Homo sapiens: one gene and its partners. The protein of the gene in region 4 purifies or fractionates together with the protein of the main gene of each other region. This does not show direct contact. Each region holds a gene or a part of one and is shown on either strand. Other genes may lie near its edges.

Region 1 (4,375 bases), on a different chromosome or scaffold from region 4:
GCCTCTGATGCAGGAAACCACCAGGTTCCCCAGTTCCACCAAGGAAGACGCATCGGTTCCCTGTGAAAACATCTGTGACTTTATGTACGAATAAAACTTATGTAACTTTACATCTGAATCAGAATTATTCTAAATATCCAACCTCAACTGGGTAAACTGAAAAAAAGGAAAAATGATTATTCTCAACGGCAGTTTCAAACATTCCATGTCAGGAAGTGCTCCGTGTGAGCAAGTGCTCCGTGTGATGGAGTGCTCCCTGTGAGGAAGTGCTCCGTGTGAGGAAGTGTTCTGTTAGAGGAAGTGCTCCGTGTGAGGAAGTGCTCCGTGTGAGGAGGTGTTCCGTGTGAGGAAGTGCTCCGTGTGAGGAAGTGTTCCGTGTGAGGAGGTGTTCCGTGTGAGGAAGTGTTCCGTGTGAGGAAGTGTTCCGTGTGAGGAAGTGCTCCGTGTGAGGAAGTGCTCTGTGTGAGGAAGTGTCCTGTGTTAGAGGAAGTGCTCCGTGTGAGTGTGAGAGTGTCCTGTGTTAGAGGAAGTGTTCCGTGTGAGGAAGTGCTCCCTGTGAGGAAGTGCTCCATGTGAGGAAGTGCTCCGTGTGAGGAAGTGTCCTGTGTTAGAGGAAGTGCTCCGTGTGAGGAAGTGCTCCGTGTGAGGAAGTGTCCTGTGTTAGAGGAAGTGCTCCGTGTGAGTGTGAGAGGAAGTGTCCTGTGTTAGAGGAAGTGTTCCGTGTGAGGAAGTGCTCCCTGTGAGGAAGTGCTCCATGTGAGGAAGTGCTCCATGTGAGGAAGTGTCCTGTGTTAGAGAAAGTGCTCCCTGTGAGGAAGTGCTCCGTGTGAGGAAGTGTCCTGTGTTAGAGGAAGTGCTCCGTGTGAGGAAGTGTCCTGTGTTACAGGAAGTGCTCCATGTTAGAGGAAGTGCTCCGTGTGAGGAAGTGTCCTGTTACAGGAAGTGCTCCGTGTGAGGAAGTGTTCCGTGTGAGGAAGTGTCCTGTGTTAGAGGAAGTGCTCCGTGTTAGAGGAAGTGCTCCGTGTGATGAAGTGTTCTGTTAGGAAGTGCTCTGTGTTAGGGAGTGCTCCGGGTGAGGAAGTGCTCCGTGTGAGGGAGTGTTCATTACTGACGGTTGTGGCTGCTATAGCCGCAGCCTTACTCACCAGTCTCCAGAGGTTCTGGGCGGGCATGGAGATGTTATAGTCAATGTAGCAGGAGACCTCCTGTGAATGGGGGCTCAGGGGGGCTGCAACATCATGCCTGGAAAACCAAGACCGAGATTTCAGAAAATTCCTTGAACTCCTCTGGAAGGCAATTACTAAATCTTTCAGGCAGGAAAAGGTTGCTTTTCAGAAACAAAGCCGGCTCAGCCATAAGGGGTGGCCCAGTCCCATGAGTTGCTGCTACTGAGGACGGAGGTCTTGAGGCTCGGCGATGGGAGTGGACACTAAACAGGCAGGAGGCCCTGTGGGAACATCTCCAAAAGAAAAGGACACTCTGCTGTGGAACCTTCCACCTGTTAGACGAGCGAACCAAGTTTCAGAGGAAGGAACCGTGCGCCCAGGCCCGATCCGGTACTGCTGCGATGCCAGCTGGCAGTACCAATGCTACAACTTGCAGGGCTGAGCTGCCCGCCCCTGCGCCCAGCTGGCCTGGGGACGCAGCAGATAAGCTGGGAGAAAAGGCTATCAACCTCAATGTTAACGAACACCCACTTCTTTTTTGTTTTGAGATGGAGTCTCACTCTGTCACCCAGGCTGGAGTGCAAATGGCGCGATCTCAGCTCACTGCAATCTCTGCCTCCTGGGTTCAAGCGATTCTCCTGCCTCAGCCTCCTGTCTAGCTGGGATTACAGGCACATGCCACCATGCCTGGCTAATTTTTGTATTTTTAGTAGAGACGGGGTTTCACCATGTTGGCCCAGCTTGTCTCCAACTCCTGACCTCAAATGATCTGCCCACCTTGGCCTCCCAAAGTGCTGGGATTACAGGTGTGAGCCAGCACGCCCGGTCAGGAACACCCACTTCCTCTTAATCCACACACTCAGTAACCATGTGGTACCGCACCATGCACCTGGCACTGTCTAGGAGCAGCCACCCAGCTGTGAACAAGACAAGGCCCTCACAGCCCTCTGGGAAACAGCCATCATGCCGGTGGGCAGAGCGTGCACCTGTAGGAGTGCCACTAATAAAACAAATGGTGGGGGACAGCACCCAGGAGGCACTTTTGGATGCAGTGACATCCCAGCAGACCCCTACATAGAGGGGCCATGGGGGAGCCAAGTCCAAGAACATTCTCGCAGAGGGAGCAAGTGTGAAGCCCCCAAGGGGCCCGCAGGTGGTTGTTTCAGGGCTGGGGGGAGCCAGGGTGGCGGGGGTGAAGTGTGTCAGGGTCACCAGGGACCTTGGCGGGTGACGGGAGTCACTGAGCACAGAGGAACAACGCAAGTGGGTTGTGCACGGTCCGCAGGCCGGACAGGCTGCTGCGAGGTAGAGAGGTCAGGCCCCAGGAGGTGGGAGTAGAGGGAGAAGGAAGGACCCCTACCCAGGGCTGGTTCTGAAGGTTGAGAAACAGGATCTCCCAATGGAATCAACATGCAATGGGAGGGGAGGGGAAGGAGTCAGGTGATGCCTCAGCTACTGGGCCCTTTCCAGGGAGAACCAGAAAAGCCAGGGCCAGAGACCGCCCCTGTGGAGCTGGGAGTCGTGGAGAGCTGGAGGTGAGCCCCGGGCAGCCGGGTGGAAGTCCAGGAGAGGTAGCCCCGGGACTGGGCCTGTGCAGAGGCAGCAAGGCCGGAGGGCCCTCAGAGACTGAGAGCAACAGAGGAAAAGGAGGCGGTGGAGAGAGCAGTCAGGGAGGAAGGAGGAGGGTGTGAGCAACTGTGCCCAGCACCACGGGAAGGCAAGTCGGACAAGGACGAAGGACTGAGAAGGAAGAAGCCTTCACGGCTCCACTCGTGCCCGAGCTTCCAGGCTTCTTGGACTCACTCATACTTTAAGCTTGACCACTTTAAGGAGGTGTGCCCAAACTCCATTCTCTGCATAGAAAGCGGGTCAACATTCCCAGCCTGTCCTTGTACACTCATCCACGGGGCCCTGAGCTCTCCTAGGATGGGCTGTGCTAGGTGCTTCTGTCCAGTCCTCACAGAGCCCCTGCTTCCTCTTAACCCCGCTCCCTTCCGCGGCCAGGCCTGGGTCCCCTCCCGGCATCAAATGTAGGTCTAAGAGCTGCTACACATGCAGATGATGGGTAGACAGGGGGCAGCGGCCCAAGGCAGGGCTCACGTTTTGGTCTGAACAGAGAACCACAGAGGAAACCCACAGGTGCAGCAGAGCAGACGGCGGGCACACTCACGTGTTCAGGGAGCGGGTGGTCATGCCGTGGACCAGCTGCACCATGTCCCCGTGCCTCACAGGTCTCGGAGGGCTGCTCACCACCAGCTGGTGCCTGGAAGACACAGTGCTGTCGGGACCACACAGAGCCTGGTCCCCTCGAACTAACAGCTGCACCGGAGGGGCACAGCTCTGAATTCTCATGGCTGAGACTGCCTCCCAACCCATGTGTGCCTCACATGAGGTGAACACAGGAAACCAAAGCACAGACATTAATTGGGCTCTTTTCTGAAACCAAAGGTCATTTTCCGAATGTGATTCTACCCGCGGTCATCACACCTGCATTGCTCTGAATTTGTCTACAAACACTACAGTGACAAATGTACCATGACTGCCAAGGAATCCTTCTGAAGGGCATTCCACCAATGAAAGTGTATGAGGGGGCCGGGCGTGGTGGCTCACACCTGCAATCCCAGCACTTTGGGAGGCTGAGCTGGGTGGACCACTTGATGTCAGGAGTTCAAGACCAGCCTGGCCAACATGGTGAAACCCCGTCTCTACTAAAAATACAAAAATTACCAGGATGTGGTGGTGGGCGCCTGTAATCTTATCTACTCGGGAGGCTGAGGCAGGAGAATCACTTGAACCCGGGAAGCGGAGGTTGCAGTGAGCCGAGATCGTACCACTGCACTCCAGCCTGGGCAACAGGGTGGGACTCTGTCCCCCGAAAAAATAAGAAGAAAAAAAAGAAAAAGCCCACTCGGGCTGCAGGTGCTGGAGCTGGGCAGGCAGCAATGGGAGGACACCATCAGGAGACAGTGACCGGGACAGCTAGAGACCTTGTTTGGGGGCAGAATCCACAGGACTGGATATGGGAATGAGAGCAAGGGGCACCTCTAGCTGGGATGTGTGCAAGATGATGCTACTTTTGCAGGAGGGGGGTTCTTGTTTTTATGAGGAAGGGAGAGGGACACAGGTCGGGGCATTGAGGCTCGCCTGGAAACTTCTCAGAGCAGCTACTGAGCAGGCTGCTCACTGAGGGTCTCATGATCTATTCCTCT
Region 2 (4,375 bases), on a different chromosome or scaffold from region 4:
TTGGCTATCTAGGTATTCACTCATCTAAGCCAGAAAGGTCTGGCCTGGCTATTGCACTTTGGAAATTAAGACATGTATGTCTAATTCTTCTCAGAAGATGCCCACAAAGAAGATTAGAATGTTCACAGTCTTGACCTAGCACAATGTGGAATGAGCAAACAGAAAGAGGGCTGGGAAATCCACCTGAAGGCCAGAATCTGTATACAGTTTTCCACTAGTAGTTTTTGTCTTCAGTTACTCCCAAAGCCATAAGTACTCATAGAGCTTTTATTTATTAGCTGCATCTCCTTGAGGTAGTAAAATACAAAAGCTATGGATAATATCCCTCTGCAGAACAGGGAAATGATACTTAAAAATAAAGCTAATGAGAATTTGGGATCTGGCAAAAGATAAACATACATGTTGTTCATCTGGGGTCATATTGTGGGTCCTTGGCTTCTATGTCCAATGTGATTTTAAAAGAGATCCAAATAGTATTCATATTTGACATTTATTAAGTATCAGAGCATGTAAATGGCATGGTTATTATGTGAGGAGAGAGATGGAGACAAACAGACTTCATAGGCTGCTTTTCCCAGAGCAGGCCTAGCCAAAAAGTGCCCAAATGTTAAGAGAGTCCCTGTGCAGCCTCTTATCCTCAGGAACATTCCAGAATTCTGGGGAGGAGATATCCCACCACACAGCCCTGAGCCAAGGCCCATAACTTTTACGTCCTACTCACATCCCCGTTGCTTACTTACTATGCCATAGCCGGTGACCTGATAGTGCTTCCGGGTCATGGGGGCCTCATGATAGTGACTGTGCAAGTTCCGGGAAGTTCTAGAAGTTAGAAAAGAGAAGTGTCATTATCCTATAGAAAGATGATGTGCAACATTTCTTCTTTTACCAAGGATGTTCAGAGTCAACTGTCAGGATAAGAAAAATTAGAATCTGAACTATTAAATCCAACATATCAGGAACTGGTTTCCTATTTACTCACAAGAAATATCCTGAGAACTGGAGAAGAGATGAGCCCAAACCAGGAGAGACAGATGGTAGGAGCACTGGACGGCATGCCAAGAAAGGGGCTAACTTTAGGTGCTGGCAGGGAGGTGGGGGGCGACTTTCACACATTTAGTAGCTTTGAAGCACTTAGCTTGCCTGACTTAGGAGGCAGGTTTGAGGAGAGGAAAAATTAAAACTTGTAATCTGCATGGCCTGAGCTAGGTAACCTCCTCACTGCCACTTACTCTTTCTGCTCCCATCGCCAGATTTTTTTAAGTGGACATCTGTGGAGGATGAGAGGGGTTTAATTTAGCTTTTATTTAGTTTTATATAACAACTCTCACTTTTATCTGGAACAAATAATAAATGTTCATTATAAAATTTCTGAAAATTTGCAAAAGTAAAATTTAATTACAATAAATTTTTATTAATGACAAATGAAATTTATTTAATAAAATAAAAATTTTAAGTATTCAAAATCCAGCTGACTCAAAAAAAAACCATAGCTAATTGCTTCTCTCTCTGTCTCTGTCTCTCTCTCTCTCTCTCTCTCTCTCTATATATATATATATATACCCACACACATACACACCTCTGATTTTTAAAAATTTGTATCCGATAATTCCAGTCTATGAAATGTTTACGGGGCTGCTCCTGCTGTCTGTCGTTTCAGCTTGTTCTTGCACACAGTGCCCTATTTCCTTGTGTGCTTTGTTACTTTTGGGTGTGTACTATTGTCACTAAAAAACTATGGGAACAAATGACAACGACTTTCCCCAAAGAGGGCTTACATTTGCTTTTAGCCATGCACCTAGGAGACACGACCAATCTAGGATCATGTTCATTTAAATTCATGTCTTGGAGATTCTGAGATCACCCAGGCAACATGAATTTGAGCTCCAAGTTCATGTGAGGATCAAATGGTAGTTCCAACTTCTCAGGAACTAAGGACAGTTCACCACCCAACCCCCAACACTTAGCTGGGTCCTAAAGTGGACCTGGGCATAAGTGGATAGGGCAGATTTACCCTTACCCCAAGCCTTTGGGGGTTCCAAATATGGGGAAGGATAACTTAATAAATTTACCACTTTGGGTGAGCCTAGGTTTGACTTTAAAACCTCTTCTCTCAAGAGACAGCCAAAAGTCAAGATTGTGGGATCAAAGCAAAAGTGGCTTCAGTGTCTCACTTATTTCTCTGGATTCCTCATTTCACTTAGGCTTTGGCCTGGTAACTCTTTAATATCTTGTCAGCCTTTTTATGCTCTTAAGAAGTCTTTATATTATTCCAGCATTTTTAGTCATTTTCAGTGAGAACACTGGTTAAATAAGCTAGCTTGCCATATTCTCAGAAACAGACTCCTACGTCTTTCTAAAGGCAGCCACTTAAGAAGAAGCTTTGGGAGCTGGGTGTGATGGCTCATGCCTGTAATAGCAACCATTTGGGAGGCTGAAGCGGGAGGATCGCTTGAGCCCAGGACTCTGAGGCCAGCCTGGGTAACATAGTGAGACTCTGTCTCAAAAAAAAACAGCAGCAGCAGCTTTCAGCAACTCAAATTTTCCTCTAGGAAATGGGAAATTGAAAGGTCCCCAGAAGGCAGGCAAAGGCTGGCCTGCAATTTCATCACCTTCATAAAATGCTTCTCCCATTCTCGCACTGTGGCCTTGCTCCATTGACCAGAGCCTCATCAAAATCTAACTTCTGTTTACTTCTTAAAATAACTCCCTCCCCTTGGTGCCCGTACCATTTATTTATCCAAACTGCAAATTGACTTACTCTTTGTGTTCTAGTCGAATAATGTCTCCATGTCTTACAAACTCCACTGGGAAGGAAGGGTCTAGGGGATCTGCCAAAAAGAAACAAGCATTGATATCCAAAATCACTCACCAGGCTAGTATTAATCAAGGGCCTACTGGTAAACAGTTATAGTACCATGTGGTATCTGCTAGAGGTACTAACCAGGTACTCTGAGACCAAAGAGGAAAGACCCCTAAATTGCTTCAGGGTATTAGAGAAGGGTGTCCCAGAGATAATGCTCGAAAAGACTCTTAAGGGAAAGGGAGAATTTTGTCAGGTGAACAAGCAGGAGAAAGGCACTAGAAGTGTGAAAGAAGAAAACTTCTGGCCGGGCACAGTGGCTCACGCCTGTAATCCTAGCCCTTTGGGAGACCGAGGCGGGCAGAACACCTGAGGCCAGGAATTCGAGACAAGCCTGGCCAACATGGTGAAACCCCATCTCTACTAAAAATACAAATAATAGCCGGGCGTGGTGGTGCACGCCTGTAGTCCCAGCTACTCGAGAGGCTGAGGCAGGAGAATCGCTTGAACCCGGGAGGCGGAGGTTGCAGTAAGCCGAGATTGCGCCACTGCATTCCAGCCTGGGTGACAGAGCAAGACTCTGTCTCCAAAAAAAAAGAAGAAGAAAAACTCCTTCGATGAATAGCAAATGGGTTTCATACTGTAAGGGTGGGTGGGGTGGGGGAGAGTGGGAACAGATGAGGCTATGAACGAGTGTGGCCAGACTGCATATTCCAGGCTGGAATGTGGCCTTTACCCGATGAGGCACTGAAGCCCCCACTGGAGCTTAAGCTGGGAAGCTAAATAGTAAGACTTTAGTAGTAATAACAGCCTTCTAAAAAGTAATTCCATACAAATGACCACTTGCCCAACTCTCCTCAAAATCAAATAAACCCTGACAATCTTGCCAGCGAGTATCTTGTCTCTGGCAATAAACTTGCTAAATGTGAGGTGAATAATGATGAAATGATTAAAGGACTACTTCTGTATCATCTCAAAATCAAGACCAATCAGGATCTAGAAAGGTGATGACATGGAAAAGGAGCTGGCAGTAATCATAGCAACACAGAATGGATCCTTGCAAATTTCTGTCCCAAACAGTGAGATACCAACACACTATAAATTGATCAAGGTCAGGAAAGATAAATTTGCCAGTGCAAATCACTGGCTCTCAAGAGAATCAGAGAACTCAACCGCAGAGACACCCATTTCCATGCTGCCTGTTAGGGTCTCTTAAAAGCATTAATTAGCAAGATGACAAATCAACTAAGTCAATAGGGAGGGAGGTTTTATTTCATATGCATTTGGTGGGGAGGGGCATTTATAGCCTTCAAGAACACAAAGACCCTAGTCTATAAAGCTCCCACAAAATCCTTAATCACTTCGATGAAATGCAACCATCTTAACTCAGAAGTCACAATGGAATAACAGACTAGGAATGTTCAAAGACTTGGTTCATGACCACATGACGGAAGTAAAACTGGTCTTCCCTCGTAACTCCTCACTGTGATAGAACACTCACGTTTGGCCTGCTGAATCAATCAATATCCATTATAAAAGTATAGAAACAGACTCTGCCCAATGGTGTCGTAATTT
Region 3 (5,012 bases), on a different chromosome or scaffold from region 4:
GTCTCGCTCTGTCACCCAGGCGGAGTGCAGTGGTGCGATCTTGGGTCTGCAATCCCCGCCTCCCGGGCTCTAGTGATTCTCCTGCCTCAGCCTCCCAAGTAGTTGGGATTACAGGCATGTGCCACCACGCCCGGCTAATTTTTATATTTTTAGTAGAGACAAGGGTTTTGCCATGTTGGCCAGGCTGGTCTCGAACTCTTGACCTCAGGTGATCCACCTGCCTCAGCCTCCCAAAGTGCTGGGATTATAGGCGTGAGCCACTGCGCCCGGCCCTAGAGAATTTCTTAAAGTAAAAGGCTGTACTGTTCCTATGGTAATTGAATTCTTATTTTAACTCATTTGAGAAAATAATCATAGAAGTTTAAATAAATTTGAACTCGACGTGAAAATTCTGAATACTTTTATTCAGTTGAGCCGCAATTCCTAAAGCCTGGAACGCGACTGCTCATCTCCGAAAAGACTTTCCAGCTTGAGACAGAGTAGAAGTATAAACTCTATATCGCTTGCCATTTTACATACAAACATAATTGTCGTAATTCATGTTTTTACTGTGTCGACCTAAATAACAGGCTGTCTAAAAACGGTGGTAACAGTTCATTGCAGTGGGAATATGCGCGGCATAGCAAACTATGTGCTTATTCAGGGAGGTAAAGGAAGACAAAGGTTGTTTTTGGTTTTCATTTTTTTGAGACGGGGGTCTCTGTTGCCCAGGCTGGAGTACAATGGTGAGATCACAGCTCACTGCAGCCTCAATCCCCACGGGCTCGAGCGATCCTCCTGCTTCAGCCTATCAAGTCGTTGGGACCATAGGCGCACACTCCTTTATTCCCAGCTAATTTTTGTATTTTTTGTATATATGGGGTTTTGCCATGTTGCCCAGACTGGGACAAAGGTTTATAAAGGAAAAAAAAAATTTTAAATGAGGATTACATCATTTTTCAGAAATAATTATCCTTGTCTACAAAGATCAGTAACAAGGGTCACACCAGTCTGAGTGTCCCTGTAAAAGTATTTTTTGTTTAAGCCTGTGGTTTTTGTAGAGTCTTTTTCGTTATTAAGCATATAAATGTGAGACCTCTCTCTTCATGACCTTACGTGGTTCTGTTTGTGGGAGGGCTGCTTTTTTTTTTTTTGAGACTCAGTTTCGCTCTTGTTGCCCAGGCTGGAGTGCAGTGTCCTGATCTTGGCTCACTGCAATCTCCGCCTCCTGGGTTCAAGCGATTCTCCTGCCTCAGCCTCCGGAGTAGCTGGGATTACAGGCGCCCGCCACCGTGCCCAGCTAATTTTTGTATTTTTAGGAGAGAAGTGGTTTTCGCCATTTTGGTCAGGCTGGACTTGAACTCCTGACCTCTGATGATCCGCCGGTCTCCGCCTCTCACGGTGCTGGGATTACCGGCGTGAACCACCGCGCCCGGCCGAGAGTTTTAAGAACACAGGGAGCGCCTGGTGGGGTCCGGCCTCCTGGGGCCTCGTCGTCTGGTCTCCAGATCTCCAGGTCTCTGGACCCCAGGCGTCCGCGCCCACGCGGGACAGCACGGTGACGTCACGCACGCGGGTCCCGCCCCCACGCAGGACTCCGCCCCATGGGACTCCGTGCCCTTCCTCTCCTCCCCGCACGAGGGGCCGCTCCGAGGGGAAACTGAGTCTGGAGTTGCCGTGCAGTCAGGGAGGAGGACGCCGCGCCCTCCCTGGACTGGAGTGAGTTCTCCCAGATCCGCGGCTGCCCGGCTAGAGGGTCAGCCACGCGTGTTCTCGACGAGCCCGTCACTGAGGAGAGAATTATCCAATCAGGACAGGCAGGGGCGGGGCCTAGGGAACTGTCCAATCAGAGACGTTAATCCGAAGCGGAGCCCTGCCCAATCAAGGGCGCTAGGGGGACGGACTGGAGAATTCTCCAATCAGGGGTGCGGAGTCGACAGCACTGTCCAATCAGAGTCTCCACTTCCCGAGATCTGTCCAATCAGACCCCGAGGACGGTAAGCCGAGTTCCCCTCTGCCTTGCGCGCTTCCCCGCCTACCCCGAGCGGCTCAGGTGTCCTGTCGTGCTCACCTGCGCCGGTCGCTGGACCGCGGGGCGCTAACCCTGGAGAGCCCAGGAGCGGGCGGGACATGGTGAGTGCCGGGCGGGAGCCGAGCCCGGGCCCAGGGCGAGGTGGGGCGGCAGGAACCGGCTTCCGCCCGAGTTCGCAGCCGGAGAAAGCTGAGGGACGCGCGGGGCGGCGCACGACGAGCGCCTGGGCCCCGGGGACGTGGTCACAGCGGCCGAGGGGTAGGGCTGGGGGCAGTCTGGGGTGACAGCAAAAGCGGTCAGGGGCTCGAGGGGTAGTTTCTGGGGACAGTACAGGTCAGGAGTTTGGGGAGAGCTTGTGGGGACAGCAGAGGTGGTCAGGGGCTTGAGGCAATTTAAGTGGACAGTAGAGGTTTAAGGGGCACAGGGGCAGTTTGCGGGAACAGACACGGTCAGGGGCTCGGCGGCAGTTTGGGGGTTCAGTGGAAGGGAGTCAGGCTCAAGGGCAGATTAGGGGGCCAATAGCAGCGGTCAGGAACTCGGGGACAGTTTGAGGGGGCCGTAGAGGCGGTCATGGGTTTGAAGGGGCAGTTTTGGGGGACAGGTGATCAGGGGCTCGAAGGCAGTTTAGGGGGACAGTAGCTGCAGTCGGGAGTTTGGGGGCAGCTCGAGGGGACAGCAGAAGCAGTCAGGGGCTCAGGGGCACTTTAAGGGGGGCAGTAGAGGCGATCAGGGGCTTGAGGGAAGTTTGGGGGGACAGTAAAGGGAGTCGGGCTCGAGGGATGTGTTGGGGGACAGTAGAGGCAGTCAGGGGATCGGGGAGAGTGGGAGGAGAGGGCAGGAGCCGTCAGGGGCTTGGTGGTCAGTTTGGGAAGGTCTGCCAAGGAGGAGGTGGTGCCCTGTCCTGGAGCCTGTCAAATAATAAAATCCTGGGCCGGGCGCGGTGGCTCACGCCTGTAATCCCAGCACTTTGGGAGGCCGAGGCGGGCGGATCACCTGAGGTCAGGAGTTCCAGACCAGCCTGGACAACATGGCGAAATCCCGTCTCTACTAAAAATACAAAAATTAGCCCGGCGTGGTGGCGGGCGCCTGCAATCCCAGCTACCAGGGAGGCTGAGACAGGAGAATGGCGTGAACCTGGGAGGTGGAGCTTGCAGTGAGCCGACATGGCGCCGCTGCACTCCAGCCTGGCGACAGAGAAAGACTCCGTCTCAAAAACAAAAACCAAAAAAAAAAAAAAAAAAAAAAATCCTGGCTAGAGAAGGAGAGAGAAAAATAGGGATAAGCCCCAGCCTCCGAAACCTGCCAGGTCTCAAAATCAACCAGGAAAAGGCTTTACTTTCATACACAAGAAAAGGTTTGGAGGAACGTTTTAGGGGACAAGCAGAAAGGAGGTTGACAGTAAATGTACCTCCTCGTGGTCAGCTAGCTCAGGGGAGGTGACAGGGGACTCCACACTTACTGCTTGCTCAGACTCGGGGGGGCCAAAGTTCAGGGGCCTGCGGAGAGGACAGAAGGCTGAGTAAAGTTTGGGGAAGAAACGGGAGGCTGCGAACATGTGGTCAAGCTTGTGTAAACCCAAACGTAGTAAGGAAACTTTTATGAAAAAGGATTATTGCGAGGTATTGGGGGAGGGGGAGAAGGGGCTGTTGCAATAGGGAGAAGGGTTAGTTGGATTAGAGGCAGGAGAGTAATGCCAGAGGCTTGAGGTTCTATTGCAGTGGGGTGGGGGTATAAGCAACAGGGGCATGGGGACAGTTGATGATTGAGCTGCGGGACTAATGCTGTAGCCACAGGGAGACAGCTGCAGGGGGAGAGCTCTGTGACCGTCAAGTATGCAGGCATCTGAAGAGTTGGCTAGGCCTGGCGCGGTGGCTCATGCCTGTACTCCCAGCACTTTGGGAGGCTGAGGCAGGTGGATCACCTGAGGTCAGGAGTTCAAGACCAGCCTGGCCAACATGGTGAAATCCCATCTCTACTAAAAAATACAAAAATTAGCCGGGCGTGGTAGTGTGTGCCTGTAATCCCAGCTACTTGGAAGGCTGAGGCAGGGAGAATTGCTTGAACTCGGGAGGCAGAGGTTGCAGTGAGCCATGATCACACCACTGCACTCCAGCCTGGGCACACCTAACCTAGTGAATCATTTCTGATGACAAAGAATGGGATTTCGGAGGGTCTGAATCTGGCCTTGTCATCTGCGTGAATCTTATCTAAGTCGTATGGGAAGGGAGGGTCCTGGCTGTCCCAATTCCAGAGCACAGCAGGACGGGGTTTCACCTTTGCTGGTTTCCAGGAGCACAGAGCTGAAGTCAGTTCAACATTGTCACCTGACAGCTGCGAACAGCCTCGTCTGTGTCCAGCTCAGCATTGGTATTGTTCCTATTTCAGCCCCAGGTTTTAGTAAATGTAAAATAATGAGGCCGGGCATGGGGATGCGCACCTGTGGTCCCAGCCACTTGAGAGGCTGAGGGGGGAGAATCGCTTGAGCCCACGAGTTTGAGGCTGTACCACTCCACTCCAGCCTGGGCAACAGAGCTAGACCCTGTCTGGAAAAAAAAAAAAAAAAAAAAAGAGCCGGGCGCGGTGGCTCACACCTGTAATCCTAGCACTTTGAGTGGCTGAGGTGGGCGGATCACAAGGTCAGGAATTCAAGACCACCCTGATTGACATGGGGAAACCCCGTCTCTACTAAAAATATCAAAATTAGCCAGGTGTGATGGCAAGTGCCTGCAATCCCAGCTACTTGGGAGTCTGAGGCAGGAGAATCGCTTGAACCGGGGAGGCGGAGGTTGCAGCGAGCTGAGATTGTTTCACTGCACTCCAGCCTGGGAGACGGAGCAAGACCCTGTCTCAAAAAAAAAAAAAAGAATAAATGCTTTTTGCCTTTTTTTTCTTGTCCTTAGTGAGGGCAGTCATTGTCTTGGATGTGTTCTTTGCCTTCTGCCACTGCCTGGTGTTATACCATGGCTTAGCCCGAGAAGGCTGCTGTGGAAAACTCTCAAAC
Region 4 (4,375 bases):
GTTGAAAGTAACAAACAAGATGAACTCAAAACAAGGGCAGAGCAGAAAGGGAGCCTAGCGCCAGGTGGGCGGGGCCGGGGTAGGGCGGGGCCAGGAGCTGAGAGGGCGTGGCTGGGCGCCGGGAGGGCGTGACGGGGAGGGGCCAGGCTATGGGGGGGCGTAGCTGGGGCAGGCACTGAGGGGGCGTGGCCAGCCGCCGGGATGGAGGGGCCTGGCGCTCACCTTCACAGGACACGCGGTCAGCTCGGAGCCTGAAGCCAGGTCGGCATGTGCATAGGAAGCTGCCCACGGTGTTGTGGCAGGAATGGTGACAGACTCGCCTCTCCAATGGCCTCCGACACTCGTTTACATCTGCGGGAGAGCCTCGCTGCGGACAGCTGCTTTGTTTGGGCTACGGAGCCCTTCTTCCGCCCATCCCTTAGCTCAAAACACTTGGGGAGTTTCTCTGCCATGTTCTTACAGGGTCCATGCCTGCCCCGAGGTGCGGGATGTGACTCAGACAGCTGGGAGCGGGGCTGAAATCTAGTGCTTGTCTTGTTAATAGGTTCACACATCGAGCAGGTATTTAATGCGAGTATCAGAGACTCAGCCCCAGCACTATGCAGCGGTAATTAATTGCTGCGTGGTAGGGGTAAGCCCCAATGAGAAGCTCATCTCCAAACCTTCCACCCTCCCGTTTTTCTTTCCGAAAAAAGTCTCAAAACTCACTGGGCTGCTGAAGGAAGGCTTCGGGACAAATACCTAACTCCGCTAGAACAAGGTCTTTTTTCAGGCCCATGGGACCCCACCTTAAACCCATGAGCCAAGCTCAAACCAAACATGCCAATCCCTTTCTGGAAATTTCTGCTAATGGGCTGAGAAAACAGGGTCTCCTTCTAAACCAGAGGAACCAAGACATAACGTGCTTTATTTACCAAGGGGAGCAAAGGCAGCCAAGAAAATGGGTGAGCAGAGAGGAATCCTTGGGGTGTATCTGGGAGAGGAGCGGAAGAGAAACATAACAGGATGAAAGTGGCAAATGGCCAGGAAAAGTCCAAGACAGGGTCTTCATGCAGAGCCACACCAACCCCAGGGACAGGCAGGCTCTGAGCCAAAGGCTCAAGCCCCTTCAAGCTCCAGAGGACCAGAAAGTCTAATTGTTAACCTTCCCGGGTCCCTGGGCTCCCTGTCCATCCTCCTGATTGGCAGCCTAAGTGTGCAGACCACAGGGTCCTCCCCGCCTTACCTACACAGGAGTGCCGGTTGCCATGAAGGTGGAAGCCAGTTCGACAGGAACACTTGTAGCTGCCAATGCTGTTTTTACATCTCTGCTGACAGGGAGTCCCTAGGCATTCGTCAGTGTCTGGCAGGAAAAGGGACAAGACTGGGGTTCATTTCCCCAACAGAACCTTGGAAATATATGGTCCCCTCTTCCTCCCTCATCTCCATCTCCTATACACACAGGGCTGTGGGGAACCACCTTAGCTGCCCCTCTTCTGCACTGCCCACATCCAGTCCTAAATACTCTCTGGACCAGCCCACGTCTCTCATCCTCACTGCTACCCCTTAGCCCGGCCACATTCATCTCTAGTCTGGAGAATAGCCAGAGCCTCCAGTGTGTCTATCTCTACCTAGGTTCCTTCAAGCCATCCTCTGCACAGCCTCCAGGATGTTCTGACCAAAGGGCATTTCTAATCAGGGCCCTTCTGCTCAAAACCTCTCCGCTGCTCCCACAGGCCACAGACCTCATCTTAGGGTAAGACAGCAATGCCGCCCCATAGCTCACGATGCCTTTGAACACAGTCCTGGTTGCCTTGCCCACCTCCTTCCTTGCCCCTGACCTTCACTCTGGCTTAAATTCTTTTTTGTTGTTGTTGTTGTTTTTTGAGACAGAGTTTTGCTCTTTTTGCCCAGGCTGGAGTACAATGGCGCGATCTCAGCTCACTGCGGTCTCCATCTCCTGGGTTCAAGCAGTTCTCCTGCCTCAGCCTCCCAAGTAGTTGGGATTACAGGCATGCACCACCATGCCTGGGTAATTCTGTATTTTTAGTAGAGATGGGGTTTCACCATGTTGGTCAGGCTGGTCTCAAACTCCTGACCTCAGGCGATCCACCTGCCTTGGCCTCCATTACAGGCGTGAGCCACTGCACCTGGCCACTGGCTTAAATTCTTGCCATCTTCCAAATGCACCACGCTCTTTTGGTGCTCCACTTTTGCCCATGTTCTCTGTCTGCCTCGAATGCCTTTCCCTCTTGTCTGGCTGGAAAACTCCTACTCATACTTCAAAACTCAGCTTCAGTGGAACCTCCTCTGTAAAAGTTCCCTAGTGCTGTTTGAAATTGTGAAAAACTGGAAATAATCTCCATGTTCATCAATAAGAGAAGAGTTAGTAAACTATGAAATATTTGCACTGCAGAGTCAGCAGTTAAAAGGAACAAGGCAAGTCTATTTACCCTGATGTGGAAACATCTTCAAGACCAACGTTGGGCAGGGGTAAGGGGAACAAGCAAAGGAATGACTAGGTTCAAATCCCAACTCTGGCTGGGTGCAGTGGCTCATGCCTGGAATCCCAGCCCTTTGGGGGCCAAAGCGGGAAGGATAGCTTAAGGCCAGGAATTTGAGACCAGCCTGGGCAACACAGCAAGACCTCATCTCTACAAAAAAAAAACAAAGAAAGAAAGAAGAAAAAAACCTTAGCTCTAATGGGATCTTAAGCAAGTAACAATTTCCTTAAGCCTCAGTGTTCCTTTCAATAAAATGGAGATAGATAATACCAACTTCACTGGGTAATTGTGAGGGCGAAAGGAGAAAATGCGTGTAAAGTGCTTAGCCCAGGACCCAGGACCTGAGAGTTCAGCAACTATCCTATCTCTGTAAGTGCCCATGTACGTACGTACACATCATGGGGAGGGGCAAGGAGGGCACACAGCAGACCAATGCCTGAGTGCTATGGACTAAACTCTGTCCCCTCAAAAATCGTGTTGAAGCCCTAACCGCCAATGTAATGGCATTTGGAAGATATGCAGGTAAGATAAGTAGATAAGAAGATAATTAGGGTTACATGAGGTCATGAGGGTGTGCCCTCTTGATGGGATTAGTGTCCTTTTAAGAAGAGACATGAGAGGCCTAGCTGGGTGGCTCACGCCTGTAATCCCAGCACTTCAGGAGGCCAAGGCGGGCAGATCATTTGAGGTCAGGAGTTCAAGACCAGCCTGGCCAACATGGTGAAACCTCATCTCTACTAAAAATACAAAAATTAGCCAGTCGTGGTGGCGCACACCTGTAACCCTAGCTACTTGGGAGGGTTGGAGGATCGCTTGAACCCAGGAGGCGGAGGTTGCAGTGAACTGAGATTGCAACAATGCACTCCTGGGCAACAGAGGGAGTGTCCTCTGTCCTCCTCCATGTCAAAAAAAAAAAAGAAGAAGAAGAGATACCAGAGAGCTCTCTCTCCAAGTGAGGACACAGCAAGAAGACTGCTTTCTGAAAGCCAGGAAGAGCCCTCACCAGAAACTGAATTAGCCAGTGCCTTAATCTTGGACTTTGCAGCCTCCAGAACTATGAGAATCAATGTCAGTGGTAGAAGCCCCCAGCCTGTGGAATTTTATCATGGCCGCCCAAGCAGACTAAGACGCGCAGGCTATTCTCCAGGGAGAGCAGAGGGCAGCAGTGGGAAAGAGGGCCTGGGCTAGCACCATGGCTTTTAAATTTTTTCTCATAATTTATGAAAATGTCAAACATAAAGAAAATAATAATGTAAGATTCAGGGGGAGGTCACAATTATCGGCCTTGTGAGATTCTTTCCATAATGTGTAAATAAAAGGCATTTTAAAAGAATGAGTAATAATTGTAAGATCTCTCATCCTGCAAACTGAAGAGGTAGGATTCCTTCTCTTCCCTGGGTTTTCCCAACACTTATCCCTCATCCTAAGCTTGTTCTTCTGCTCCCCATCAGACTTGGGGGATCCTACTCCCCAGGGTAGCTCCAGAGCCTGGGCCAGCAGTGGGGCAGGTGAAACTGATGAATGTAGTCAGTGAATGACCCCATCCCGGTATGCCCCTCCCATGGCTCCTCGGGACTCATGGCCTGAGTCTCTCCCGGCCCTCCCTCATCTCAGTGGCCTCCTTCCCCAGGTTGGTCGGCCCACTCTGCCCTGGCTCTCCTCACGGCCTCTCCTCCATCACCATCCCTTTATCCTGCAACAGCAGCAGCAGGTACTTTGTTTTCTGAGATGAAGTCTCACTCTGTCGTCCAGGCTGGAGTGCAGTGGTGCAATTTCGGCTCACTGCAACCTCCACCTGCTGGGTTCAAGCAGTTTTCCTGCCTCAGCCTCCCGAGTAGCTGGGATTACAGGTGCTCGCCACCACGCCTGGCTAATTTTTGTATTTTTAGTAG
Region 5 (4,846 bases), on a different chromosome or scaffold from region 4:
ATAGTGGTTACCAAGGGGAGAGGGGAGACCACTGAATGCACAGGGGCATGAGGACATTTTTGGGTCATGGAAACGTCCCATATCATGATTGTGGTGCTGGTTACACAACTGTATACGTTTGCTCAACCTCATCAAATTGTATACTTAAAATTGTACAACTGTGCTGTATATAAATTACACCTCAATAAAACCTTACCCCCCAAAACACTGGATTTCAGATGAGGAGGTAGAGATGAGGACAAATGCTGAGAACACACCCCTAACTGAGGCATGCAGGCATGAAGGATGACGATAGCCGAGGGAAGGAGAAAATGGGCTGAAACAAGGCTCCAAGCCAGGTGTGGGGGCACACACGTTGGTCCCAACTACTTAGGAGGCCGAGGTGGGGGATTTGCTTGAGCCCAGGAGTTGAAGGCTGCAGTGAGCTATGATTGTGCCACTGCACTCCAGCCTGGGCGACAGAGCAAGACTCTGTCTCAAAAAAAAAAAAAGAAAAAGAAAGAAAAACAAAAAAATAGCTCCACAGGTATCAGAATATGGTGTTGGCCAGTGAGGCTGTCAGAGGCTACATGGCTTCAGTGTGGGGAGCAAAACCAGCAAGAGTAGGGTAGGGTCTGAGGCCCGCACAGGCCTTTTTGATGGGTATTTCTGGCCACTGGGAGAAGTCCATGTCTAATGTGTCATCATTCTGCAGGGAAAGGAATAAAAAACCCAGACAGTATGCATTGGAATCAGATGCTGATGTGGTAATGACACTAGCAGAGAAGTCAGAACAGACCACACAAGATGTCCCAGGAGACAGAACAACTTGAACTGTGAGTGAGAATGAGACTGTCAAGAGAAAATGCCAAAGCTGATGTGTACTCAGGAGAGTCAACTGGTTATTCAAAGATCTAACAAGCTAATATTTTAGGAATAGGAATAACACATGCATGAGGGCCCTACCACCTAGACGGAGCTGCACAGACACATACAGACATACATACATGCACACACATTTTTTTTTGCTGAACCATTTGAAGGTAAGTTGCAGACATCATGATGTCTCACTCTACAGTCTTCAGCTTGTATCTCCTGTGGATATTCTCTTACATAATCACAGTACTATTATCACATGCAATAAATTTCATATTGATACAATATGACCTAAGATACAGCCCATTTTCAAATTTCCTCTTGTCCCAAACTGCCCTTTATCAATTTTTTTGGATCTATCCCCTAAGCAAGGAACATGCATTGCATTTGACTGTCAAGTTTCTTGAGGACTATAAAGCATTGTGACACACTACAGAAGTGAGGCACAGCTCACAATACACGTTTTGCAGCTGTTTCTAGCTGGCTATAATCTGCCATCACCTCTTTTGAGTGGCAGACTGACAAAATCACAAAATGCTAAAAAAAAAACAAAAACCCAAAGACCCCTTATTCCTCCACATCTTTCACTCTACTGTGCTCTCTTTGTCAACTGCACCCTTCTAAATACAACCATGGGGTGAGGTGGTTGCGGTAGAAAAACAAAATGAGGAACAGAGTTCACAGTCTGTAAAAGGAGGGATCTGGGTCCCATTTGGCTGCAGAAGTTCCCAGGGCCAATTCCTTGCTGAGCCCCCAGATTCTCTAAATCTCCAGGACTCTCCATGAAGGCCCCATGCCAGGGGCTGGGTACAGAGGAAAGCACACAGGGATGTGTCCCCTACCGCCACTCTTAACCAAGTGCTGCAATCCAGCCCTTCCTGAGCTGCTCCACGTGCCCCTGTCTGATTCCAGTCCCAGTAAACCAACCGTGCAAACATCCTGCACCAACCCCTGGCCAGCACGTGGATAGGCAAAGCGACCCCATGTGAGCCGTCAACTACTTTCTCAGATTCCACTAAAACCACTCCTCAGAGCTCCCAGCACAGCGCTGGGCAGAGAGATCCCCAGCAACTGACCCACTGAATTGGACTGGGCGAGACATTCAATAGAGCACATCTCGAGGGCACACCTCGGGCAACATCTGGACTCTTCACTTGGAGCTGTTCCCACTGCCCAGAGCTTCCTGAGGACTGGCCAGCAGGTACCCGGGTGAAGGTCTGTGGAAGGCTGACGATCCAGGGCTGGGGAGGGAATGTGCCAACCCTCTTCATAAAGAAGGAAGAACACACAGCCACTCACCTTGGACCTGGCTTCGGGAAGACCCCAACCCGATATATCCTCGAGATTCTCTTTCAGGGAAAGAGCAGGATCCTGAGAGGAAAGAGCTGGCGAAGGAGAAATGAGTCAAGGTCACGGCTACCAGGCTCACGGCTGAGCTTAAAGCCCACCTGTCGTGGCACAAGTGAGAATCAGAGAGGAGGCAGAACCTGCCAGCAAGGCCAGGTGGGGAACGAGCCCCAGTAGCTAGCACCAACAGAAACAGCATCGAGGAATAATCTGCCTGTGTCTCAGACACTCCAATTCATGACGAAAAGAGCTGCTACCCCCAATCAAGCACGTCTGAGTGGGAACAAATGATTGGGCGCGGGGAAGAAAGAAGCAGGAGGCCAGGAGCGATGGCTCACGCCTGTAATCCCAGCACTTTGGGAGGCCGAGGCGGGCGGATCGCTTGAGCTTAAGACCAGCCTGGGAAACATGGCAAAACCCCGTCTCTACTAAAAATACAAACATTAGCCGGGCGTGGTGGCGCGCGCCTGCAATCCCAACTACTTGGGAGGTTGAGGCGGGAGAATAGTTTGAACCCGGGAAGCAGAGGTTGCAGTGAGCGGAGATCAAGCCATTGCACCACTCCCGCCTGGGTGACAGAGTGAGATTCCATTTAAAAAAAAAAAAAAAGATGCTGGATGCTTCTGGGAAACTGGCCTGATCTCTCTGAGTGTCAATATCCTCAAGTGCAAATCCACAGACATACTGACTACAAGAGTGAAGCTGTACCTGTCTTCTCGGGCTCCGGGGCAGGGATCTCCATGGCCTCCACGGCAGCCTCCCCAGGAGGAGTGGGCAGCTGTGTAGCCTCCAGGATCCAGGGCAGGCCCTGAAGAGCGAGTACTGCTCCTGGGGCTGAGGGGCCTGCAGCGGAGCCCCGCGGGGCGGCCACGCGCTCACAGCTGCACGATCACACGCACGGAGCCCCCTCCCCGCGCCCGGCTGAGGTGGGGTTCAGGCCGGCTCCGCAGATACCCACTCCCCACACCAGGCTCAGCCCCATGCTCGGCGCACTCACGCCCCGGCACACCCCCGCCACACGCTCCTCCCGGCGAACCCGCGCTCGGAGACCAGGGCCAGGCCTAAGGTTCCGCGGCCAGGAGCCATCGGACGCGGAGCGACCAGCGGACAGGTCCCGAAGCGGACAGAGACCGCCGACGGTCTGAGGGACCGGCAAGTGGACAGACCGGACTCCCACAAAAGGACTGCGACTGCCACAAAGAGCAGCAGGCGGCCGCTGCGGGAAAGCGCGCCTGCGCGAAATAGGCGCAAACTACACCTCCCGGGAGCGTTTGCGCCGCGCAGGCGTCAGACTCCATTTCCTAGAGCGAGTTCGGGCCGGTGCTTGCGTCCCGACGCGAACGAGTATCTAGCACATCCTTCTAGGAAATGTAGTTCCTGGGCCCACAGCCGGGAGCTCCGGCACCCACCATGCTCTTGCGGGCGGATGTCGCTGTGTATCTCCGTGTGCGGATCAGTGTAGTGCCGCTGCATGGGTGTCTAATTGCGAGGATACTGGGAGGGCGGTGTCCAGGAACTAGAATTTGTCCTGTTAGTTCGTCCACGTCCCCACGTAGCTGGGAGTCGGGTGGGTTCCTGCCCACATCTGTCTGCAGGAAAGACTCAAGCCCCTGGTCTTACGGATATTGGGAGTGGTGGGTCTGGCCTCGAGGGGTTTTCCAGGGGCCCTGCCCCCACTCCCCCTTCTCGAGCCACATATCTGAGGCCCATGGGCGCGGGTCCCCAGAGGTGGGAGAGCCTTGGCCTAGTCCCCCCAGAGGGTCCTGTCCACAGTTCACCCCTGGGGCGGGAAAGGAAGGTCTGGGTGGCGGCCCAGTCCTGGCGGCACAGAGCTCTGCCATGAACACAGTGATGACGCCAGCGACAGAAACATTGAATATGTACTGAGCACCAACCAAACGCCAGGCCTACTTCAAGAGCTTGGAGTACATTTTTCTGGCAGAATGCTCACAGCAGTCCAGGGAGGTTTGCTAACTACTGTCATCCCATTTGGGAGATGAGGAAGTTGTGGTACAGGTGCGTGGGGTAACGTGTCGCAAATCACACAGCCAGAAGTAGGAATCCAGCACCGAAGTGCATTGCCACATTCCTACTGAGAGGTGGTCCGGGGTGGTGCACACTCCAAACCCTTCAGCCTCCCACCTTAACCGCAGCTTAGGCTTGGCCACAGGCTCTCACGTGACACCTGTCCACTGCCCACATCAGCACAGCTGTGCCCAGACCTCCCCTGCCCAGGGCAGCGCCCGTGTTTGATTTTGTTTTGAGACTGGGTCTCACTCTGTCGCCCAGGCTGGAGTGCAGTTGCACAATCACGGCTCACCGTAGCCTCAGTCTCTCGGGCTCAAACTATTCTCCCACCTCAGCCTCCGGAGTAGCTGGGACTTACAGACATGCACCACCACGCCCGGTTAATTTTTATATTCAGCGCCCATTTTTAATAGCAACCCAGTGAGAGGGGACAGCGTGCTGGCAGTCCTCACAGCCCTTGCTCGCTCTCGGCGCCTAGTCGGCCTTGGCGCCCACTCTGGCCGCGCTTGAGGAGCCCTTCAGCCCACCGCTGCACTGTGGGAGCCCCTTCCTGGGCTGGCTGCGGCCGGAGCCGGCTCCCTCAGCTTGCCGAGAGGTGTGGAGGGAGAGGCGCGGG
Region 6 (3,464 bases), on a different chromosome or scaffold from region 4:
TACATTCAAAAAGTTTCTCTCCGGTGTGAGTCCTCTCGTGACTTCGAACAGAACTGGCGCACCTAAAGGCTTTACCGCACTGTTTACATTCGTAGGGTTTCTCTCCTGTGTGAGTTCGTTCATGGATTCGAATGTACTTGGAACAACTGAAAGCTTTCCCACACTGCTTGCATTCATAGGGTTTATCTCCAGTGTGAGTCCTTTCATGTATTCTAATGTAACTGGAACAACTGAAGGCTTTCCCACATTGCTTGCATTCATAAGGTTTCTCTCCAGTGTGACTTCTTTCATGTATACGAAATAAACTGGGATAATCAAAGGCTTTCCCACACACCTTACATTTGTAAGGTACACCTCCCCTATGCGTTAACATGTGTCTTCGAATGCTTACAAGAGAAATAAAGGTTTCTCCACATTCCTTACAATCATAGGGCTTTCCTCCAGGATGAGTCCTTTCACGTACTGGAAAAGAGCGATGATAACTCAAGGCTCGTCCACACTGGTTACGTGTATATGACTTCTTTCCATATTCCTGATATTCATTTGGTTCACGTCCAGTGTGATCTCTGATGTGCCTATTAAGTGATGAAGGACCCATGCCAACTTCTCCACACACACTGCTTTCACACGGTTTTACTCCAGGAGTTTTCTTGTTCAGAATACCATCTGGAATCTGGCTGAAGGTTTCTTCACCTTGACCACCTTCTTTACTTTCACAGAGTCTCTCTGGAATATGACTTGTCAGAAAAATGAGAAGTACATTATTAATGTTTTGTTTATAAATGATTTTATATTTATTAATAGGTATTAGACTTACATATACTTGTTTTTAAATACAGAGACAGAATCTTACTATGTTGCCCAGGCGTGAACCCTGAACTCCAAGGCTCAAGGGATCCTCTCACCTCTGCCTCCCAAAGTGCTGGGATTACAGGCGTGAGCCACCATGCCTGGCCTTGGATTCACATGTTTAACATTACCAGGGAAAGTGTACGTTTTATGCCTGTCTCAACTGTTTGAACATGAGTGGACTAAATGGTCTGCAATAGGTCACAACCATACCTATTATCAAAAAATGATATTCATGGCCAGACGCAGTAGCTTATGCCTGTAATCCCGGCACTTTGGAAGGCCAAGACAGGAGGATCACCTGAGGTCAGGAGTTTAAGACCAGCTTGACCAACGTGGAGAAACCCTGTCTCTACTAAAAATAAAAAATAAAAAAAATTAGCCAGGCGCAGTGGAGCACGCGTGTAATCCCAGCTACTCGGGAGGCTGAGGCAGGAGAATTGCTTGAACCCAGGAGGCAGAGGTGCAGTGAGCCAAGATCATGCCATTGCACTTCAGCCTGGGCAACAAGAGCGAAACTCTGTCTCAAAAAAAAAAAAAAGAAAGAAAGAAAATGATATTCATGGCCAGGTGTGGTGGCTCACATCTGTAATCCCAGCACTTTCGGAGGCTGAGGCAGGTGGATCACCTGAGGTCAGGAGTTCAAGACCAGCCTGGCCAACATGGTGAAACCCTGTCTCTACTAAAAATACAAAAAATTAGCCAGGTGTGGTGGCAGGCGCCTGTAATCCCAGCTACTCGGGAGGCTCAGGCAGGAGAATCGCTTGAATCCAGGAGGCGGAGGTTGCAGTGAGCCAAGATGGCACCCTTGCACTCCAGCCTGGGCAACGAGTTGTGAAATTCCCTCTCAAAAAAAAAAAAAAAAAGATATTCGTATGAAGTTTCTTAATACTATCTATAATTGAACTATTTTGCAAACACTGAACATCTATGTTACACTTAACTATGTTTTTGGAGAAGATTTTCTTTTTTTCTTTTTTGAGACAGAGTCTCACTCTGTCACCCAGGCTGGAGTGCAGTGGTGCCATCTTGGCTCAAAGCAAGCTCTGCCTCCCAATTCACGCCGTTCTCCTGTCTCAGCCTCCCGAGTAGCTGGGATTACAGGCACCCACCACCACACCCAGCTAACTTTTTTTTTGTATTTTTAGTAGAGACGGAGTTTCACCGTGTTAGCCAGGATGGTCTCGATCTCCTGACCTCGTGATCTGCCCACCTCAGCCTCCCAAAGTGCTGGGATTACAGGCGTGAGTCACCATGCCTGGCTTGGAGAAGATTTTCTAAAAACAAAACAGTTTGAAGCTGGGCTTATATGTTGTTTGCTTGCTTTTAAAAATTCCTGCTGGGCATGGTGGCTCAGGCCTGTAATCCCAGCACTTTGGGAGGCTGAGGCAGGCAGATCACGAGGTCAAGAGAACAAGACCATCCTGGCCAACATGGTGAAACCCCGTCTCTACTAAAAATACAAAAAATTAGCTCGGCGTGGTGGCACGTGCCTGTAGTCCTAGCTACTCAGGAGGCTGAGGCAGGAGAATCACTTGAACCTGGGAGGCGGAGGTTGCAGTGAGCCAAGATTGTGCCACTGCACTCCAGCCTGGCGACAGAGCGAGACTTCATCTAAAAAAAAAAAAAAAAAAAATTCCTAACAATACGAAATGCTCTCAAGGAACAGAACTTTCTTTTGTGAGTGCAAATTACCTTATATTTCTCCTGGGAATTTTGAATGGGTCTTCAATGTTCTGGTCTTCCCATTGTTTTCCTAAAATTTAGACCCAGAAAAGTCATTATGAATTAGTATAAAATTATGAAAAAAGTATTAGATTCTATATTCATAATTCCCTGTACCCATGCCTGGTTTATTCCCCAAAGTGTTAAGGAGCTAGAAACACTTGTTCTCTAATTCACTGAGGAAAGGAATATTGTCACCCTTACCTACAGAAGCCAGGTTCCTGAAGGTTTCCCGCATCACATCCCTGTAGAGATTCTTCTGGGAAGGATCCAGCAAAGCCCACTCCTCCAGGGTGAAGTTCACAGCCACATCCTCAAAGGCCACTGAATCCTGAAACATCCCCCATGTGTGGAGGAGGAAGGTTGAGACAGACAGCACTGGGGGCCTAGACTTTATTCCCAAGAAGTTCTCAGGATGCTATGCTTTCCAAACATTTATTTCAAGATTCCACAGTCATCAAACTTACCCTCTGTCTAGACTCACTTCCTTCCACAAAGCAATTCTGCTGCTAGAACTGAACTAGCAACAGCAGAATAGGAGCATGCCTCTCTGGTGGGAGAAGTATGTACTGCCTGGGCCACCCCTAATGTCTCTCTGTAAGGTAGGCCTGTAGCACCTGTTGTAACAAACATGTAGTGGCTGGGCGCGGTGGCTCACGCCTGTAATCCCAACACTTTGGGAGGCCGAGGCGGGTGGATCACGAGGTCAAGAGATCGAGACCATCCTGGCTAACAAGGTGAAACCCCATCTCTACTAAAAATACAAAAATTAGCCAGGCACGGTGGTGGGTGCCCATAGTCCCAGCTACTCAGGAGGCTGAGGTAGAAGAATGGCGTGAACCCAGAAGGCGAAGCTTGCAGTGAGCTGAGATTGCACCACTGCACTCCAG
Region 7 (4,375 bases), on a different chromosome or scaffold from region 4:
CCCTTAGACTATACAAAGTCTCCTATTTTCTTGAGGAATGTTCACTGTGATCATTTAAAAATTTCAGTTGTTTCATCCTTTGGAAAAATGTTTGCATATGATGCACGTTTTCCTTTCTTCCAGCTGGATATTCAGTTATGTCCAGTACCATTTCTTTAAAAATCCATTTTTTCCCTCTGAGTTTAAATATATTAAATTATCTTTTATTCTGGGATGCATTTGTCAATTATCCTCTGCTACTGATGCAGCTATTTTTATTGAATCACTGTGCTGTTTGGATTATAAGTAGCTTTATAAGATGGCCTAATATCTAGTGATGCCAGTTTCCCATTATGATTACTGAAAAATTGTTTTCTGGCTCTTCTTGTGAATTTAGTCTTCTGTATATATTTTATGACATCCAAATGAAAGAAAAGAAAAAAGCAAAACAACTCCCCCCTGCTCACCACCCCCAACAAAAATACTTTGTTTGAATCCTAATTGGAATGACACTAGGTTTATAAATTAATTTGGGGAGAACTGACATTTTTTGTGATAGCAAGTCTTCACATTCCAGGACATGCTATCTATTTTATGTCTTTCAATAACATCCTATAGTCTGAACTGGGAAACCCATTCCCAGGACTCTACTGCCTAGAAACATCACTCCTCACAGTGACACAAAATGGAAAAAAAAGTGGTTGTCCATCTATAGGAAAATTATGTAGGCTAGGCACGGTGGCTCACGCCCATAATCTCAGCACTCTGGGAAGCCGAGACCAGCAGATCACGTGACATCAGGAGTTTGAGACCAGCCTGACCAAGAGGGAGAAACACCGTTTCTACTAAAAATACAAAATTAGCTGGGTGTGGTGGTGGGCACCTGTAATCCCAGCTACTCAGGAGGCTGAAGCAGGACAATCTCTTGGACCCAGGAGGCAGAGGTTGCCAAGATCACGCCATTGCACTCCAGCCTGGGCTACAAGAGCGAAATTCCATCTCAAAAAAATAAAAATAAGTAAATAAATTATGTAACATACCACAAAAGAGTAAGTAGACATTAACAATAGTGATTTTGATGTTTTACCCGTTGAAGAGGATGGATTTCCATAAGGTACTGTTGAATGAGAAAAAACAATATAGAAAAGTACCTATTATGTGATCCCAATTTTGTGCAATAATGATCCCTTCCCATACTCATCACTGTCAGCAAGAAGAATGCAACCTGGGCTGTTATCAAGAATTACAGAGGTGGGGGCAGGAAAGGACAATGTAAACAGAGGGAATGGGGAGGAAAAAGGAAACAGCATAAATAAGAGAAAAACCAGGTCTGTACTAAACACCAAACCAAAACAACCAACAAAGTAGGTATGAGGTCCCATTTATGTATTTTAAAGTACATATGCACATTAAAAAACACAAGTCAGCTTTTATTTTTAAGACTGCACAATACTGACTACTAGATCATACTTCAATTCATTTATAGATAAACCAAAATAGAAATGGAAAAATGACCTCTGCATCTGAACTCATCCAAGGCCTAGAATAGTGACACATCTTACCTCTACCCACAGTTGTTCCACTGATAGATATTTCTCTCTCCTAAATCCCCTTTAAAAAACAACATAAATATTTCATGCCTTGTTTGTGAGATATTTCGCAAAGATTCCTTTTAAGGAAGATGTTAAACTAACATTCTTATCTTCCATCACTAGAAAGTTTTCAGAACTTTTAGAACAGAAAGTCTTTTCCACAGGAAAGTTAGGCTGGAAGCCCACTCATCTTTCAGGGAAAAACTGGAAATTAACCTTCACAGCAGAAAATAAAAGGTATATGAAATTTTAAGCAATAACCAAGACATAAGGGGTTCTTCTTGATCAAGTGAGTCCCTAAGTACGCAGTTTTCTGACTGGAAGATAAAAGAAAGGCTCACCCAAAGATCTACAGTGTTCAAAGAACAAAGTAGATTATTTTGTACCGCAATTCAGAAATTGTAAAAAATCATCCATTAAATTAAGACATGCCTAAGAAATTATTATTTTTAAATTAAAAGATTCAATTCATGATAGGCAAATCTGATAGTAAGTGGAGAGGTAATAATGAAGGAAGGATGATTTATATTACCAGAAGGTTTCTTTTTTTTATGAGACGAAGTCTTGCTCTTGTCCCCCAGTCTGGAGTGCAATGGTGCAATCTCGGCTCACTGCAACCTCCACCTCCCGGGTTCAAATGATTCTTCTGCCTCAGCCTCCCGAGTAGCTGGGATTACAGGTGTGTACCACCACACCCAGCTAATTTTTTGTATTTTTTTAAGTAGAGATGGGGTTTCACCACGTTGGCCAGGCTGGTCGCGAACTCCTGACTTCAGGTGATCCGCCCATCTCGGCCTCCCAAAGTGCTGGGATTACAGGCGTGAGCCACCGTGCCTGGCCTATTACCAAAAGGTTTCTAAACAACACAACAGATACAAGGGTCTGGGGCACAGTATTTGACCCATAGTAGTGCTAAACATTAATTCCATTTTCTTTCCAAAAGGATTTTTGTAAGGTTTCTTTATATGTCAATTGTCTTGGTGTATCTACCTAATATACACAGAACTTTTCAAAACTGTAACTATGACAAGGCGTGAAATATTTGGAATCACATATTCCAGGGTTTAGCCACACAGAAATTACAGCAATTTACTCTGGACTTATTAAAGCAAACAAATCCCTGCTAAAGCTATGGCTTACCTTCCTTCCATATTTAGGATACACACCAGTTCATCCTCAAAAAAAATCTCTGGTCCTTCAAGGTTCTCAATGTCACTGAAGCCATTACAAGGAACCTATGAAGAAGACATATACAAGTAGGCCTCAATTATGAGTATTGATGCAACTCTCACTCTCACAAATTTGAGCTGAAATAAAGATGTCCACTACTAAAGACAGTGCTAACAGTTATTCTACACTACCTTGCACTACCAGTCATGGGTAGAAAATAACATAAAGTAACAATAATTTACTGAGGTTTTGTTGTTGTTTGTAATCAATGATGTTTTCATAGACTGGAATTTCTGAAACTGACAACTCACAGTTCTAACGTAAAGAAAACTAGCTCTGGCCGGCCATAGTGGTTCATGACTGTAATCCCAGAACTTTGGGAGGCCAAGGCAGGCAGATAACCTGAGGTAAGGAGTTTGAGACCAGCCTGATCAACGTGGTGAAACCCCATGTCTACTAAAAATACAAAATTAGCCAGGCATGCCTGTAATCCCAGCTACTTGGGAGGCTGAGGCAGGAGAATCACTTGAACCCGGGAGGCGGAGGTTACAGTGAGCCAAGATTGCGCCATTGCACTCCAGCCTGGGCAACAAGAATGAAACTCCGTTTTAAAAAAAATAAAAAGGCGGCGGCGGCAGGTGCAGTGGCTCACGCCTGTAATCCCAGCACTTCGGGAGGCTGAGGTGGGCGGATCACCTGAGGTCAGGAGCTCGAGACCAGCCTGACCAACATAGAGAAACCCCATCTCTACTAAAAATACAAAATTAGCCAGGCGTAGTGGCGCATGCCAGTAATCCCAGCTACTCGGGAGGCTGAGGCAGGAGAATCACTTGAACCTGGGAGGCAGAGGTTGCGGTAAGCTGAGATCACACCATTGCACTCCAGCCTGGGCAACAAGAGTGAAACTCTGTCTCAAAAAAAAAAAAAAAAAAAAAAAAAAGATCTTCTGAGTTTAAAATTCTATGGCTTCTCTCAGTTTTCTTTTTGCAAGTAGCCAGAACATTTCAGGTCAACCTGTGTGCATTCTGAGAACACAGGAACGCCAAGATCCCGGGCCAAAGCAATCACCCACCCACAGATTAATGTTAAGTATGCTCCCGCTGTGTTCAAAGTCCTTGACATACTTCTAATTAAGCAGTGGTACAGGAAAAGGGGGAGCTGAGGAAAAAACACAACAATCCATCATTATTACACAGAGGCACAGACTGTTCAAAACATACACAAAACCAGCTGGACTAGAAATGGAGGTTGCAGGCTCATAGTCCATGACCAACTGCACCAAACATAGCTAGTACCAAAATCTACGTATGTGCAAACACATTCAGATCAGCATTTACAATTTGTGATTATGAATGCTTTTAGCCAGGGCATGGCTTCTCCAAAGTAAAATACAAATTTTGTTTATTCTAACACTAATAAATATTTATAGAAACCAATTACACTAAGGAATGTCTATTTGTATTCTCCATAGGGGAAAACATTCAAATTTGTCCAAAGTTCAAATTTTCCCTTTCAAAACTTGAAAAGCCTTGAAAACATTTCAAATTATTAACTCCATTAACTAACAGTAATTAAAATTAGAGAATCCAAAGGAGTCTTTAGGAAAACAAAAAAGTGAAATAAATCAGATTGGC

The links.
Region 1: the proteins of VWCE (region 4) and POMT1 purify together in Homo sapiens (affinity purification with mass spectrometry; 2 studies listed by BioGRID and IntAct, with this or other methods). This does not show direct contact.
Region 2: the proteins of VWCE (region 4) and POMT2 purify together in Homo sapiens (affinity purification with mass spectrometry; 2 studies listed by BioGRID and IntAct, with this or other methods). This does not show direct contact.
Region 3: the proteins of VWCE (region 4) and ZNF77 purify together in Homo sapiens (affinity purification with mass spectrometry; 2 studies listed by BioGRID and IntAct, with this or other methods). This does not show direct contact.
Region 5: the proteins of VWCE (region 4) and ZNF74 purify together in Homo sapiens (affinity purification with mass spectrometry; 2 studies listed by BioGRID and IntAct, with this or other methods). This does not show direct contact.
Region 6: the proteins of VWCE (region 4) and ZNF627 purify together in Homo sapiens (affinity purification with mass spectrometry; 2 studies listed by BioGRID and IntAct, with this or other methods). This does not show direct contact.
Region 7: the proteins of VWCE (region 4) and FBXO21 purify together in Homo sapiens (affinity purification with mass spectrometry; 2 studies listed by BioGRID and IntAct, with this or other methods). This does not show direct contact.

The regions. Positions count from the first base shown.
Region 1 is NC_000009.12:131,512,293-131,516,667, reverse strand, and holds part of POMT1 (protein O-mannosyl-transferase 1), read right to left. Parts: intron 3,430-4,375; coding exon 3,337-3,429; intron 1,243-3,336; coding exon 1,146-1,242; intron 111-1,145; exon of another isoform or gene 1-110. UniProt on the Homo sapiens protein: Transfers mannosyl residues to the hydroxyl group of serine or threonine residues. Coexpression of both POMT1 and POMT2 is necessary for enzyme activity, expression of either POMT1 or POMT2 alone is insufficient.
Region 2 is NC_000014.9:77,286,004-77,290,378, forward strand, and holds part of POMT2 (protein O-mannosyl-transferase 2), read right to left. Parts: intron 2,829-4,375; coding exon 2,759-2,828; intron 1,269-2,758; coding exon of another isoform or gene 1,230-1,268; intron 820-1,229; coding exon 741-819; intron 1-740. UniProt on the Homo sapiens protein: Transfers mannosyl residues to the hydroxyl group of serine or threonine residues. Coexpression of both POMT1 and POMT2 is necessary for enzyme activity, expression of either POMT1 or POMT2 alone is insufficient.
Region 3 is NC_000019.10:2,941,938-2,946,949, reverse strand, and holds the start of ZNF77 (zinc finger protein 77), read left to right. Parts: upstream 1-1,978; 5' UTR 1,979-2,109; coding exon 2,110-2,112; intron 2,113-5,012. UniProt on the Homo sapiens protein: May be involved in transcriptional regulation.
Region 4 is NC_000011.10:61,281,564-61,285,938, forward strand, and holds part of VWCE (von Willebrand factor C and EGF domain-containing protein precursor), read right to left. Parts: intron 1,343-4,375; coding exon 1,226-1,342; intron 974-1,225; exon of another isoform or gene 915-973; intron 352-914; coding exon 223-351; intron 1-222.
Region 5 is NC_000022.11:20,392,727-20,397,572, reverse strand, and holds the start of ZNF74 (zinc finger protein 74), read right to left. Parts: upstream 3,423-4,846; 5' UTR 2,945-3,422; coding exon 2,911-2,944; intron 2,241-2,910; coding exon 2,155-2,240; intron 1-2,154. UniProt on the Homo sapiens protein: May play a role in RNA metabolism.
Region 6 is NC_000019.10:11,613,968-11,617,431, reverse strand, and holds part of ZNF627 (zinc finger protein 627), read right to left. Parts: intron 2,906-3,464; coding exon 2,779-2,905; intron 2,606-2,778; coding exon 2,545-2,605; intron 738-2,544; coding exon 1-737. UniProt on the Homo sapiens protein: May be involved in transcriptional regulation.
Region 7 is NC_000012.12:117,183,766-117,188,140, forward strand, and holds part of FBXO21 (F-box only protein 21), read right to left. Parts: intron 2,807-4,375; coding exon 2,712-2,806; intron 1-2,711. UniProt on the Homo sapiens protein: Substrate-recognition component of the SCF (SKP1-CUL1-F-box protein)-type E3 ubiquitin ligase complex.